Regions from separate parts of the Homo sapiens genome. Here region 2 is linked to region 1. The links come from fine-mapping of genetic effects on gene expression. Tissue or cell type: whole blood. Region 1 holds a variant in brackets; the other region holds the start of a gene. All regions are shown on one strand. Distances are between the middles of the regions.

What was found. PIP is the estimated chance that this variant, and not a neighbour inherited with it, causes the effect.
Region 2: it holds the start of SPTBN1, and the variant in region 1 is fine-mapped to the expression of SPTBN1 in whole blood (TOPMed, PIP above 0.99).

What each region holds. Positions count from the first base shown.
Region 1 is chr2:54,570,997-54,579,103 of GRCh38, reverse strand. All of the region lies in intron 2 of SPTBN1 (spectrin beta, non-erythrocytic 1), which reads right to left. Among named protein-coding and RNA genes, the nearest start is that of SPTBN1-AS1, 16 kb to the right of the region's middle. RefSeq lists silencers at 4,317-4,376, 4,447-4,606. The variant T/C (reference allele first, on the strand shown) is at 3,973.
Region 2 is chr2:54,452,140-54,460,246 of GRCh38, reverse strand. SPTBN1 (spectrin beta, non-erythrocytic 1) reads right to left here and starts at 3,920. Exons shown (of 36, transcript NM_003128.3): 1 at 3,729-3,920.

The sequences.
Region 1 (8,107 bases):
TGCAGAAGTAATTGTAGTTTTGTCATTACTTTTAATTGCAAAAGCCACAATTACTTTTGCACCAGCCTAATACATTCATACCAGAGGGCTTCTCTATAGCACCCTCAAAAGAAAATTTCTTGGGAAAAATGGTGACATGGCACCTTTCAGTCTAGCAGTGTTAGGCATTCCTAAGAAAGATACTCAGATTTCTCCTGGACAGAGAGGGCATAGAAGAGAACAAACCCAGCATTCACCAACCCAACAATCCTATTAGGAATCTTATGATTCTGGACTCTTGAAGTGGCAGAAGTAGCATCATACACACACACATCAGAATTATCATCACACACACACACACACACACACACACACCCCATCAGAAGACACTTGCCTAGGCCAAATTAAATCATTTCTGGAAGTGGGCAGGGTATAAATAATAAATATAAATAACTTGCCTCACTGATGCCAAATATAGATCATAATGAATGGGAACAAAATCAAGTTTGTGGTTTTAGGATACAAGTAAGGCTGAACACGTAAGGATGAACTCTTAGAAACAGTTTTTATATCTGCTATGGGGAAACTCAAAAGGTGGCCTGAAAACACAATGCAAATCGCAGCTGGAAGTCTTCACTTATACTTGGCAGCAGCAGCAGCAGCAGCAGCTAACCGGAAACAGGGATTATCCATTTTATTCACACAGGGACATCACAGAACAAAAGGCTAACACTTAGCCCAAAAACACCAACAAACACTCAACCAGTCGAAAATATTTAAAGTCAAGAAAAATCAGCAATCTCCAATAATCTGAACTTCAGATGTGGTTTCCTGGCCTAACTCCATGTTTCTGGGTAATGCCATCACCTTTGAACATTGCTCCAAGGTTATTCTCTGTGTAGCAAATGCTCAACGATGCAGCAGTGAACACTGTACTTTTAAATCCAAGATTCTACTTCAGTGCCAGTACAGTTTATTCCAGGTTCTCACGGGTACATTACAAATAATTTCATATACTGGGAAAATACAGATCAAGAGAGTCTGTACTGTCAGCTGAGTCCTTTATAGTCTGGAATCTCCAAAGTACCATCAAAGAAAAGGGAATAAAGTCCTCCAAGATAAGGCAAGGCTTGAATTTTACATGGCATTCACCATGCTGCTCCTTGTTACCATCACCAATGAAGAGTGAGAGTCTCAGCAAATCCTTTAAGATTGAAAAAAGGATCAGGAATTTCTACCTCTCAACAACTGCTTTCACTAAATCAAGGTTGCCCAGGGTCCTAACAAAATCCTAATGTGGGATCTACAAAAGCACCAGGTGAAAAATGCTCAACAGGCAGCACAGCAAGATGGTTAAAAATTGAGTCCCAAAGCGCACTGCGTGGGTTGGAATCCTGGCTCCATTTACTAGTTAAGTGTCCTTGGGCACAGCTTCCTTTGTGCCTCAGTTTCCTCATCTTCAAAATGGAAATAACACATCACACAAGGACGCTATGAGGAGCATATGAATCAATACTGCAAAGTACTTAGGACAATGCCTGCACAAGGGGAGTATCAAGAAGTTTTGGTGGCTATTACCATTATCAGTACCACCACCAATACAGGGCTAGACTTTAGGTAGGGACCTACTTTCCTTCTCTCTTTGCATGAGAATCCATATACCTTTTCTTTTGCTTTCCCTCTCCTTTGTAGCTTGTTAGGTTTCCCACAGGACTGATTTTGTGAGCTCAAAGCATGAGAAGCCAAAAATGCTTAATGTTTTGGCAGTGGGCATCTACCCAGAAGAGCCTTGGGGGAGCACATTCGGTAAAATGAAAGTGACCAGAGTAAACGGCCATGCATTTATTTGCAGGGGCCTTCAAATCTGTATCAGACAATCTACAACCCTAACAGGTTAGAGAACTGAAATGCAAGTCACTTGTCCAAGGTCATTTAACCAACATCAGCTGCTAAGCAGCACCTGATTCCCGGGACCTGTGCCAAGATTAGCTGGCTGTTGGCTAACAAAAAGGAGGCAAAACCCCCAACTAATAATAAGCATTAACAAATGAAATGGAAGGGGAAAAAAAACTTGCATGATGTCCCAAGTAGAATTCTAGCCATTCCCCAACATCCTCCATGGTTTCATGACTCCCTCTGTACACCCCTACCCCCAAGCACCCATCATCTCATAATCTAATCCAGGTCATATTTAAAAACTTGCAATCAATGTCAATTCCTCCAAAATGCTTCCCCCACATCCCAGGACCAAGGAATGATATTTGCATGTTTGGGATCACTTACCTAGTATTCCCTTTCAGAATGTAATTTGAGACCGTGGCTGTCCCTTACACACCTGTGTTTCCAGTGTGCTCAGCACTGTAAGCTGCTCACCTTGACACCCACTTGCTGGCTGAATATTGATTGAACAGGTGGATGGATTTGATGGCTCCCTCAGTGATCTTCAAGCTAAAAATGGGTTCTAAAAAGTCATCCTGCCTTCTTCCACGGCACTTATTCTTGGCTAATTAAGAGGTACATGCTACTCCATTCTCACAGCCAGGCAGCTGTGGCGCATCAACTAGAGCGTATAAGCAACGGCCTTCCAGGATTTGTCAGTTGAGTTTTGAGTACAAGTTCTAGAAAGTACTACTTCTTCAAAGTATAGAGTAAAAAAAAAATTGAAGTAACAGAGCCAACAGCTGTTTTCCTGGACCTACACATACCTGACATCAACGTTCCAGCTTTAAGTTATTAATTAGGCCAAAGCAATAGCAGAAAGAAGAGCTGAAGGCCGGGCGCGGTGGCTCACACCTGTAATCCCAACACTTTGGGAGGCCGAGGTGGGTGGATCACCTGAGGTTAGGAGTTTAAGACTAGCCTGGCCAACATGGTAAAACCCTGTCTCTACTAAAATACAAACATTAGCCGGGAGTGGTGGCAGGCACCCGTAATCCCAGCTACTGGGGAGGCTGAGGCAGGAGAAACGCTTGAACCCAGGAGGCAGAGGTTGCAGTGAGCCGAGATCGCACCATTGCACTCCAGCCTGGGAGACACAGCCAGACTGTCTCTCAAAAAAAAAAAAAAAAAGCTGGATCTGAGTGACAAAAGGAAAAAAACACAGACCATTACCATCATCCACCTCTCTCCCTATCCCTGCTACCATAACCTAAACTGTACCAAAGTCTGGGCCCTGCTTTAACCACTCATCCAACCATGTTTCTCGTACTACAGGTTAATTCCTGTCTCAGGAGAAAAGACCAGGTTCCCATGACTGCCTAGGCAGAGGCATGTTGAGACCCAGCCTCTCAAATGTCTGTACACATTTCTCCTCTCCTTTTGGTTGAGAAGTTTGTGGACAGATTCAAAGGAGTTCCCGATACATCGAAACTGAGCCTTCACGCCACTGAGTCACTGCTTAATTGCATCATAACAGATGTTCAGCTGCAGGTATTTCATCCAGCAGCTAAAAATCCAGAGCCTTTGCAATTGCTACCAGTGGGTCTACATCCACGTCTCTGTGTACAAAAGAATCCTGATATGTCAACGCTCAATATCACCTGAATTTAAGCTATGGCTCAAGTTAAATGCCCTTAGGCAATTTTACCTTAGTTACTTTTACCAAATACCGTATCCACAAGTGGGTGGACGTCAGTTTTGTCCTTCGAGATATGCAGATGCATTACTCATCCCTCCAATGTTACGCTCTTGCAACATCAATGATAAGCAAATTAGCAGACTGTTATCTTTTTAATGGAAGAATTTACTCATCAATAGCAAAAGCTTTATCAGAAATTGACATTATTGAATCCTCTGGAGTTGCAGAAAAGAAAATAAAAAGAAATTGATATTGGGAAAACCTGACTGGTTTCTTTCAGCTGTGTATTGTATTGCTAGGTTAGGTGTGACACTTAACACCTGTGAATGTGGCTGAATCTCCAAGAATGATCAAATACACAACGCTCTGGATTTAAAACAAAACAAAAAAAACCTCAAAATCTACCCATGTGCTGA[T/C]GGATGTATACACTATGCCTTCCTACGTGTCTCCACCTATTTAGACGAAGCACACGCCTTGAATTCACAGAAATGTTGAAAACGGCCCCCTCTTGCTGCAGAAGTTCACCATCACCCATTTTCTTACTTGCTGGCTAAATGAGGCTGCCACCTCAAGTCATCTTTCTGGTCCTCAGGTTCCTCAATCCACAAAGCAGTTATGATACCACCTAGCACACAGGGTGACTGAAGGGATAAATAATATGTTCATGAAGGTACCTGGTTTATGCCTGGTTCATGCTGGAAAGCCCCCACACACTTTTTCAAAAAGTCATGTTTGATGCAGGAGAAAGAAGTCAGTGGTTTAACTAACTACATCACAGGCATCAGTAGACACATGAGCAAAGTGGTGGAAGGGTGTGACCTGCAATTCCAAACCAGACTGCACTGATCGAGCTCTCATGGGATCACTGATTCCCCACGTGCCTGACATGAGCATGACCCATTCTAAACACAGGCCTGCACCCTGTGACTCAAGTGCTGCAGCTTATCAGCAACTGATGGGCTTTCTGACCCTGGGTGAGAAGACCTGACCTCCAAAGGCAGGAGGAAGGAAACCACATGATAAAAATCATCACTCTGAGGGGAGGATGCTTTCTGCGCAGCTAGGGCTAAGGAAGTTGTTTCAAAACAGACTCAAGAAACGTGTAGGCTGCTGCTAGGAGACTTGGGTCCAACTGCTCCCTCCAGATCCTGCCACACCTAAATGATCCCAAGAAGATAACTATCTCGGAGAAGCAGTGTGAGGTAATGGTTTAATGCTAGGGCGTGGTCAACAGCCAGGTGCAAAGGCCGGCTCCGCCACACTAATAACTGTATGGCATTCTCTCCAAGCCTTGCTTTCCTCATCTGTAAACAGAGATAACGCCTGACCCTATCTCTAGCATTCTTCTGATTGTGAAATTAGATAATGTATGTCATAAATAGCACAGTCTGGTACATAAGTGTCCAATAAATGTTGGCTATTGTTACTGGAAAGGTGTCTGTTTCCTTCATTAGACCAGTTGAGGGGACCTGAGAACAAAGACAACCCCAACATTTGTGTCCCCCCACAAAAATTTCTTAGATTTAATTATGAGTTTGTATTTTCCATACGGGGTTCATGCACATTATTCTAACTGATTCTCACAGCAACCCCAGAGGAGAAGGGAGGGCTGGTGTTCTGTTTTGCAGGTGTACAAAGCACCCCCCTCCCATAAATACATCCATTCAAATCCCATTAGAAAAACAGGATCCGTTTTCCTGTCTCTTGACTTGTTTGTGAGCTTCCTGAGGGCAGAGATAGAAATTACACCCCTGTGGCCCTAGTGCCTGAGCAAAGAGCCGCAGGCAGAGGCCCTCCATAAGGCTGAATATTAAAAAGGGGTTGAGTCATACTAAGAATCATAATTATTCTAATGACCATGTCTCCTAGTAGTCCAAAAGGAGTTCTGTTTCTAACGCAGAAAACCTTAGCAAATGAGTTACACTGTGAATTCCCGCTGAGGGAGGAGGAACAAAGACAGAGGATCCCAAATCAACTGCTGAATCACCGAGTCAGGGGTCCCCAACCCCCAGGTCACAGACCGGTATTGGTCCTGGCCCGTGACCTATTAGGAACCGGCCACACAGCAGGAGGTGAGTGGTGGATGGGAAGCATTACTGCCTGAGCTCTGCCTCCTGTCAGATCAGCAGCAGCATTCTCACAGGAGCCAAACCCTATCATGAACTGTGCATGCAAAGGATCTAGGTTACCACTCCTTAATAAGAATCTAATGCCTGATGATCTGAGGTGGAAGAGTTTCATCACGAAACCAACTCCCCATTTCCTCCACCCTATCTGTGGAAAAATTGTCTTCTACAAAACCAGTCCCTGGTGCCAAAAAGGCTGGGGACCGCTTTACTAAGTGACCTGTGCATCACTTTCCTCTTCCAGAAACATGGAGCAGAACAGCTACTCCTTATAAGCAAAGAGGGAGCAAAGATCAATGACATAATTCACATCTGCAGACAACTATGAGCTCACAGGAAACTGAGGTAAGAAAGGTCATTTCAGAGTCATTTAATGACAACAATGGCTGAGATGAGTATCTGGTGGGGTCTGGGCCCGCCTTCTCATCTGATTCCCAGCACGCTGTGGCAAACACAAAGGCAGTCAGCTTCTAGAGCCCCTTCCCACTCACACTGCTCCTGGGCCGTGGGTCACACTGCTCTAGTGCCCTTCCCTCAACTCCAGCCCTCTCCCTTTCCAAAAACCCATCTGAATTTACTACCCTGATAAAGACTGCAAGTGTATGGTTCTGTAGCCAAGAACTCCTAGTCAAACTGGCTACAGTCAAGCCCACTGCTGAACGAGTATGACTTTTAAAAATTGCTTCCTTGTGTTTCAAGTGAAAAAAATAACATCCCACCTCCAAATTGAAATCATATATGTATATTTGTAGAGGAAAAACAAAGATTTTTTGTAAAGGGGGGCAGAGATTGGGAGGCACAAAGGGCTGGGAAAGTAGTTCATGGGCCAAAAGCAGTTTTCTTTCAGATATGTCTTCAGTTTAAAAGACCAAGTTTGCACATTCGTGTGCTATCTAAGTTTCTGAAGCCCAGCCTCTATTTGCTCAGAGTGTGATTTAACTGCCTGGCTTCTAGCAAAGCATTACTCACACTGTTATCTCTGTAAACAAAGACACTCGCGGTTAGAAAAGCTGTGTTCGTTTTATGGTCACACAACATAAAAATCTGAATAAGCTGCCACACCTAGAAGAATGGATAGATTTCAATTTCCCAGGGTACATTTTTAACATTTTTTTGCTATGTAACCTGATTACATTAGTGTAAATGCATCTTAAAACTTTATCCTGGTCCAAATATTCTTGCCCCATCTCATTCAAAAGAAAGGGGGGAAAAAGACAATGTGATGTCTAATTTCTAGGGGAACTGTTTCTGTCTCCCTAAGTACCTTAGTACCGTGGCTTCCCTCTCCTCTCCTCTTCTCCTCACCAAAGTTTAGTAAATTCCCCAGCACCCAGCAGAGTCCTAGGGAGTATGTGAGAGTCCAACCACAAGAGTTCCCTAAATTTGAGCTTTAAGGGGATGAGGGGAGGTTGTCACTAGGGTCATATTAAACTTCATTTTATCAAAAAAAGTAGATAGGCCCAGCCTAAGCCCTTCCTGGAGTTTTAGTTTAGCCACATCATGGACAAAATTATTTTCATGATGTATTCTTTCATTCAAGACATCATTTATTAAGTGGCTCTTTTCTCAGGGAAGAGGCCCCTGGAAGGAAAACCAGCTAAATCACTTTAAAACATATGCATTACTGCTTATATTACTTTACCTACTCATTCATCCCTTTATTCATGAAACATTTATTTGTATGCCATCCCTAAGAAGGAATACAGAGATACACGCAAACACACTAACACACTATCCTCCTGGGAGTTCACAAATACCCACTGAGTATCAGGTACACAGTAATAGGCAGCCAGCTTCCAGAAGCCCTTTATTTATAGATATGTGTGTGTGTGTGTGTGTGTGTGTATGTGTGTGTGTGTGTGTGTGTGTGTGTGTACATACAATTAGGGAACAGTAATAGGTATCTTCATATATAACTGGGGGACTCACCACCCAGTGTGCCTGGGACTGAGGAAGATTCCCCGGATGTGGAATGTTTGGCACTAAAACCGGAAAACTCCCTGGCAAACGGTGAACTCGTCATCCTCTTAATACAATTATAACATACCTAATTAGGCTTTACAATCACCCCAAGGGCTATTTATTCTTTCCCCCTGAAGAAAATGAGGCTCAGTGAAGTCACTGGTAGAGCTAGGATTTGACTGTTGGTTTATGCAAATCCACGGCCCATGTGTTTCCCACCACCCTTGTTTCTGAAATGAGAGAGAAAACGTCCCACAGCCCTTGACAGGCACGCCAAACCACCACTACAATGTTCTGAGCCACTTCCCTTCCACTGCTCTCCTGACCACCCCCACCACTCTTCACCGCAGACTTCCCACAGCCAGGATTTCATCTGCTTGGCAGTTGTTTGCAGATAGTGTGTAATCTCTCTGTCATTGCAAGACTGAATTGTACAGCAAGTCGTTTAAACCTTTATAGGAAT
Region 2 (8,107 bases), 120 kb after region 1:
TGATATTGAGGTCCCTTTGCTGAAGGAACAGAATAGAGTTTCTTCATTTAATGTGCATACAACTCACTTAAAGGTCTTGTTAAAATGTTGATTCCGATTGGCTGAGTTCAGAGTGGGGCCTAAGAATCTGCATTTGCAACAAGCTTCCAGGCGATTCTAATGTTGAAGGTCCGTGAACCTCACTATGATAGCAAAGGACATTATGAAAATGCCTTCTCCAGAGATGTTTAAAAATAGAAACACAGGTATATCTAATTGGTGTAATTTCCTTTAACCACTGAGTAGAAAAAAATAGATGATGTTATTCCCACACAATAAAAATTTAAATATAATTACAAGTGCTACCGGAAAAATCAGAGTACTAAACTAGGTCTTTTGCAAAGAAAAGATGCCCTGAGAAAAAGCAAAGACTGAAAATTTACAAGAAAAACCCATGAGATGCTTTACTCACTTCCACAGACCTACAAAGTTCACTCTTCTAACAGGGGTAGTTAGCCCCTTCCTTCTGGAAGAATGGTTTGCATTTCCAATAATGTAGTGAAAGAAACTACGGCTGCCATTAAATAAAGCCCAATTATAATGAAGATACTAGTTACGATGCAACATAATTAAAGGAGCATCATGTCATTGCACGTAAAAAAAATTAGGCTTTAAAATGTTCTATAAGAATATGCTATTAAAAAGAAAAGCTTAAAATTATTTCGACAAAATCCACACTGAATGATTTCCACTAATCATGTCTATGTTAGCAGTAGTAAAATCCTTCCACGTCAAAATAGTACTTCCACATGTAAAGTCATACATTCAAACATCAAGACAAAGCAACCACTCTACAAACCCTTCCAGGAAACTCTGCCAATGCCAAGCCTCTGCTCAGGATGTGTCACAAGTAGAGGGAGGTCTTCTCATTTGCTCTGCAACATCACAGATAGTTGTTACTAGTCTTGCCCAAGAGAAGTTCTTCACAGAAAACCTCAACTGTGGGAGACGACCTAGTGACAGCAGTTCCTTCACTGCCCAATACTTCTCCTCTCAGATGAAGGTTTTGGTCACTCCAGTAATGACAGAGTTACAAAGAGCTTAACCCAACAGAATTCTGCACCTGCTGTGTAAGTCAGAACAGCTAAACCTCCTGTGACATCAACACAGGATATTTCTTACAACAAAGTAAATCCAAAACGTTTGGATGATCCATGGGAACAACATTCATAAAAATCTGTACGCAACACGATTTTACACAACCAGCACAAAAAGTCTCATATTTTAATGGCTATTAGAGAAACTCAAAATAACGCACATACACCACACAATGTACATGCAGTTCTATTCTGCAGAGCCACATGAAATCAAAAGCAACTAACTTGGATTCATTAGAAATATTTAAAAATACAAGCAGGCACGCCCTTGGCTTGTAAACACTGACCTTCCCTTCCAACTAGCATATTGAAATTTCCTTTTTCACCTAAACATTTTAGGAAAGCCTGGGTTGACATTTGAAATATATCCCATTTGCCATCCCACACTGAATAATGAATTATAGAGATGGCATTTAGAAGGGAAATTCCCTGTGTCCTGGCCGAGACTAAACATGAGAACACTGGGAACCATCTCCTTCTGACTAGATGCCAGTCAAGAGGCCTTGGTGGTCTGCCCTTCTCCACCCTCTCCCCAGTCACAGCTGTGAAAAATATGTATACAAAAAATACATATAAACAAACACAAACGCAGTGTTACTGTCATAATCCCATTAATTACGCCCGGACACTTAACTTGGCTACCTCAATCAATAGAAATCTGAATACCAATTTAGCCCCCATCATGACACTCATACACCTAATAATCCTTAATAAAGCATCCAAATAATGCAACTGTACTTGACTTAGAAAAAGCAAACGATGAAAACAAAATACAAGCTAAAGGAATCATTTACTATCCATTAAAAAACATATAAATTCCTTTTAAAACAACCTACTGAATTTTAATATACTTATAAATGTCTTAGTGACATAAAACCCAAAATGCATTAATCATTTCATTTAAAAATGGTTTCCTACAGAAAAAATGCATACTTGGTATTAACCAAAGACAGACGAGGTACTGTAATGTCACAGTTGTGAAGGTCCAATTAATAAACACCAACTTTTCACGTAGAAAAAATTAATGCATAGCTGGGTTGTGGTTACAGATTATGGACGATCCACAGAAAAACGCTGCGACTCCCCACACTGCAACATTGCCTCCGCACACCACTGGGCCCAGTCCTTCCTGCAGCCCCTCCCTATGGCTCAGGTCCCCTGGTCGCAGATCAGATTCCGATCCGCAACCACAGGCCGGCTCCCCTCTGCCTGCACTGGTGATGCAGGGCGCCCCTCCGGCAGAGCGCAGCCCAAGAAGAGGTGCAGGAGGGATCATCCCAAAAGAAAAGACTCTCCCCTGCTCACACCTAGCTGACCTGGTCCTCCTGACGCCACATCCAGCAGAAGCTGCAGGACAAGGTAGCAGCAGCTCCAGGCCTCGGCCAAGGGCAGCCCCGGGCCTGGGTGGGGCCGGGCGGGGGCCGCAGGCGCCGAGCGGCCGTGCCAAGCCCCGCCAGCGAGAACCAAGGAAGCTGCGATACTGCTGCATTGTGCTGCATCACGGCGAGGGCACCGTGAGCCATCCATCTTGCCAAAAAAGCACATCCCCGCCCAAATAAACCCCACCGAATTCAATTTTCTGCTCCGCCGAAGCACCCCCACACGCACCCTGTCCTCACTTACTATCTGGCCTGGCTTTCGATTGGAAAAATAATGGACAGAGGTTTGCGTTCTGATCCCCACCCCCTCCTCATCTGATGGCAGCAGTTGGCACCTTTCCTATCACAAAAACAAAGAGAAGGCGCCCCCTAAAAGAGGGCCGTGGGCGTGGTGTGGGGGGTGATGACGAGCCAGCCCACCTACCCAAAGCAGGCCCGGAGGGTCCCTGCGCTGAGACAAACCTGTTGAAGAGAGGGTGGCAGGAGCTGAAGGGCGGGCGCAGCGGCGGCTCGGCGCCCGGAGGCGGCTCACGCCCAGCCCTGGGAGAGTGGGGACGGCAGAAAGGGCGGGGGGGGGGCGGGCGCACGAGGGTAGCAAGCGCAGGGATGGGGCGGAGGTGGGGGCGCGGGGCCGCCGCCTCCGGCTCAGCTGCAGCGCGGCGCAGCCGGGACCACGCCTGGCCGCATCCCCTGCACCGCTACGCGCAGAGCCCGGCCCTGTCACCGCCGCCCCCGCTCCCCACCCGCGGGGCCACAGAGAGGGCACCTGAAAATAGACCCTCCGGCTGTCCGCTGTCCGCTCCGCACCCACCTCCGCGCCAGGGGCCTCCGCGTCAGGGGCCGCCGCGCCCGGCTGCAGGGAGGCGCCGGCGGAGGCAGGGAGGAGGAATCGCCGCGCCGCGCCGGGGCTGGGGCCGGACGGCAGCGGTGCGCACGGCGGGTCTGCTGCCGCCTCACCGCAGAGCCTGCCGCCCCTCGTCCCGCATCATCCGAGTACCAATGAGCACCCGCGACCCGGGCTCCCCGCGCCGCCCCCGCCCGGGCTTTGCAGCCTCCCTGCCCCCACGCGGCTCCCCGGGCGCAGGGCAGGCGGGCAGCGGCGTCCTCCGGCCCTGGGCCCGCGCCCCTCCTCCCGCCCGTCCGCCGCCGCGGAGCCCACCCGGGAGGCAGCCCCAGTGAGTTGGCATCTCCCTGCCTCGGGCCCCCTACCTACCTCCCGGGGATGGGGTGGGGGCGCCGGGGTCCCGTCCTCCTCCCGCTCCTCGGCGGCCGGGCGGGTGGGCCGGGAGGCGACTCCGCGGGTCTGTCCGCGGCTGGGGCCGGGGCTCACAGGACGGGACCAGTGGGCGCTGCTGCGCAGGGCTGCGCGCTCGCTCCGGGAGGAGAGGCGGCCGAGGGAGGGACTGGAGGAATCCGCAGCCTGCACGGCAACAGCGGCACTGATTCCGGGGGCTGGGCGGGAGCGCGGGGGGCGGGGGGAGGAGGAGAGGAGGGCGCTCGCAGGGAGGGGGCGAGGGGCGGGGAGAGGAGCGCGCGGGGCGGGCGCGCGCGCACACACACACAAGCGCACTCCCGGGATCCCTCCCGCACGCCCTCCGCCCTCCGCACTCCTCCCTCCCCACTCCCGCCCGCTCCCTCTGCTTCGCCCGCCCTCTCCTCCTGCCCGGAGCCCCGCAGCCGCCCAGGGAGCCGAGCCTCGGGCGCGTCCACGTCCTCTCCAGCTGAGGCTCTTCCCGGGTCCAGCCCGGACCTCATCCTCCCAGCGGCGGGGACCGACCAGGCTGGCCGGGGCGGGGTGGGCACTGCTGCTGCCGCTACCCGAGCAGGACAATAGGGGCTTTGTCTCCACAGCCGGAGAGGGCCAATTTCACGTTTAATTTGAGGCTAATTCGATTATCGCCATGGAAAGAGGCGGTCTAATTTTCTACGTGATTTGTGCAGCCTCTTTTCGCCCTTGATGTTGCGTTCGGAATGCTGGGGAGAGAGGGTATTTAGGGAGGTTTTGGAGCGTCACTTGCTTGGTTGGTTTGAGATGCAGTTGGTGATGCCTTATAGGTTCTACCCAACTTGGAGAAGGGCGACGGCGACCTCTTCGTGGGAAACCTTGGGCGCTGGAGGATGGGTGGTGGGGGTCGTTCCTTGTGAGGTTAATGTATTCTTTTGCAAATGCTTTTTCGCCCACCCTTTCGCTTTGGGTAGCTGGGAGCAGACCCTACAAGTGGTTCATCCAACTCCTGCCTCTCAGTGCAGGCTCCGCTCGAACCTGAGGCCAGGTGCCCTGCCCCAGTCACTCCCGAGAGAGGGGTCGTCCGGCCGCGGTGGAGGGCCCCGTGATGGCGTGGGGACTTGCGTTTTCCCCTATGCGCATTCCCTGAAACGGAAACTGGACGTTTCCTCAAATTTTTGTCATGTGCCACTGCCCCTTCCCAGTCACCTGGTCTACCCCGTCAGCCCCTCAGGCTGTGTAGAAATTCCAGAACCGTCACTGTTGTGAAGAAAAGATGGTGGAATCACCAGGACCACGAATGGAAACGCTCTTTAGAAAAGCAGTTTGAAGAAACTGACTTTCTCCTTGTTCTGTAAAGTGCACAGGGCGGCACTGCGGGCATTCAGAGGGAGGAGGGCCCTTCCTGTTTGAAAAAGCCCCAGGGCTTTTTCCCCATACAGACCTGATCACCTGGATTAAAATAAAACAAAAATACACGGCAGCCAAGTAGTTTGTATCATGCTTATATCTCAGATCACTAGAACCTGGCCTGATGGGTTTATATGTTTGTATGTATTTTTAAATGAATATTTTAAAATAAAACTCAGTGAAATCGTCACAGCAAACTGAAGATGATTCTTCCTTTTAGGCCTTCATAGGTTTGAATGTTTGAACCTATGTTTACTTTTGATAGGAAAAAAATTGAGGAAAGCAAATAACATTTTTTCTCAGAAGGTGAATCAACACAACCAGACCGTAAACTCTCTTAAAGGTAGGGTTATTTCTTTCTTCACTCTGTACATATAGCAGGCACTTAGGTACTAAAACAAATTTGTTGAATTGAACACAATCAACTTGTAAGCTGCTGCCCTCATTAGGTAATAAGGGAAATCCACTAGAAAGCAAAGTTGTTTGCCTTTCACTTACTTATTTTTTTACCATGGACCCCAGCACCTCCCCACTCACAATGTTAATGAAATACCAAAGAAAACAGTAACAATATTGGGAAGTGCATCCATTTAAATTAATTCTTCCAGTGTTATTCTGAAATGGTTATTCCTTTATCACAGACAACGGTATTTAAATAAATTTTCATTTGATGAATGATTCACCTCCCTTACCCCATTCCACTCCCACTTACGTTGTTTTTTAATTAAAAAAAAAAAAAAGGCCACACACACCTTAGCAAGGTACTCTAGTAAAGCCCCAGTAATTATTCCAAAAATGTGAAAGACAAGGATTCAGAGTTCTACTGTAAATACCTGCATCACAATTTTGAATTCTTACCCTTAGGTGCAAAAAATCACCCTAGAGAACTCAGTGTACCAACGACCAAAAAGAAGTAACAATTCAAAGAAAAGATAGTACAACTGGAAAGATTATTGGAGAAGACATTTTTATGGAAGGCAAAATCTAAAAAAGATAAAAAGTCTTAGGCAGTGATAACAGCTCAGAAGGATTATTCCCATGTATCTCAGAAGCGGCTTAGTTTCTTCTCATATTAGAATCAGGGTTGATATAAAGGAACCTAGAAGTCTTCAATATCATGTTTGTAACATACTACTCTCCACTTTTAAAACCATGTGATTGCATATGGCTTTATCTCCCATCAAAATACTTTATTACAAAATTTTTACAGATATAAATTGTCATTTTAACTTTCCATTCAGAATGTAGGGGAAGGCTGGGCACGGTGGCTCATGCCTGTAATCCCAGCACTTTGAGAGGCTGAAGTGGGTGGATCACCTGAGGTCAGGAGTTCAAGACCAGCCTGGCCAACATGGCGAAACCCCGTCTCTACTAAAAATACAAAAATTAGCCGGGCATGGTGAGACACGCCTATAGTCCCAGGTACTCTGGAGGCTGGGGCAGGAGAATCACTTGAACCTGGAAGGCGGAGGTTGCAGTGAGCCGAGATCGCACCACTGCATTCCAGCCTGGGTGACAGAGCGAGACTCTGTCTCAAAAAATAAAATAAAATAAAATAAAATAAAAAGGTATTGATAAACAGTATTGTCTACTACAACCTGTTTTGTTTAGAAAAGAGAATGATACTCTAAGTATTTCCTTGGTTATATTATATTAACCCAATTGAACTCATCTTTTATTGTACTGATAATAGCCCAAAACTTTAAAATCAGAACATATTTTGAAAACTTGCATATATTTTTAAAATTCCTGTTTACTCCTAAACTTGCTTCCTTTTAACTCTGAACTAGTCTGGGAAATTTCCTCATATTTAAAATATATTTCATTTGGGAATTCACATGTATTAATTTTGCACTGGGAAAACCTAAAGACTTATATGTAAACTATCATTATGAATGAATTTTTTAAAGCACTAATAACATATTTACTCTTGCATAAAGTAATTTATTCTTTCATTATTCAAGAGATAGATATGCCTTATATTCTTCTCGGCTCTGAAATAGAGCAATGGGTAAAATAATTTTAAAAAATCATTGCTTTCATGGATCTTCCATTCTAGTAGATTATATCTAGTATTCCATTCTAGATATAATCAATCAATAAAAAAGTAAAAGATATGTGTAATGATAAATCTGAATAGATGGTAACCTAAATGTATAACAATATTTATAAAATGATCACAATAAATGGTCTCAGCTTTCTATAAAAGATCTTCACATTTTCTATGTTAATAATAATAATGATTATAAGTAGCAACCATAAAATGTTTTCCAGTTTTTAAAATGCTTTATCAAATATTATCTTATTTTGTCCTTTTGCCAGTTCTGTGAGGTAAATATTAACCCCATTCTGTGGATGACCAAATGGTCAAATGAGTTGCCCAAGTTCTCACAGCTAGTTAAGTGCCAGAGATATCTTAGGAGCTAGCATATCAGAGCTGTATGCCTGGGCATTGCATATGAATTACTCAACATAACTCTATTTTGCAAGATGGAAGAAAGTTCTAGAGATGGATGGTAGTGATGGTTCCACAACGATGTACACGTACATAATGCCACTAAACTGTATGAAAATGGTTAAAATGGTAAGTTTTACGTTGTGCGTATGTTACTTTTTTTAACCATTCAGAAAATTCTTTTGGGTTTTTTTTTAACTTTTATTTTGGGTTTGGAGTATATATGTAGGTTTGTAAACAGGTAAACTTGTGCCACAGGGGTTTGTTATACTTATTAATTCATCACCCAGGTACTAAGCCTATTACTCAATAGTCATTTTTTCTGATTCTCTTCCCTCCTCCCAACCTCCACCCTAGAGTAGGCCCCAGTGTCTATTGTTCCCATGTTTGTGTCTGTGTGTTATCATCATTTACCTCCTTCTTATAAGTGAGTACATGCGCTATTTGGTTTTCTCTTCCTGTATTAGTTTGCTAAGGATGACAGCCTCCAGCTCCATCCATG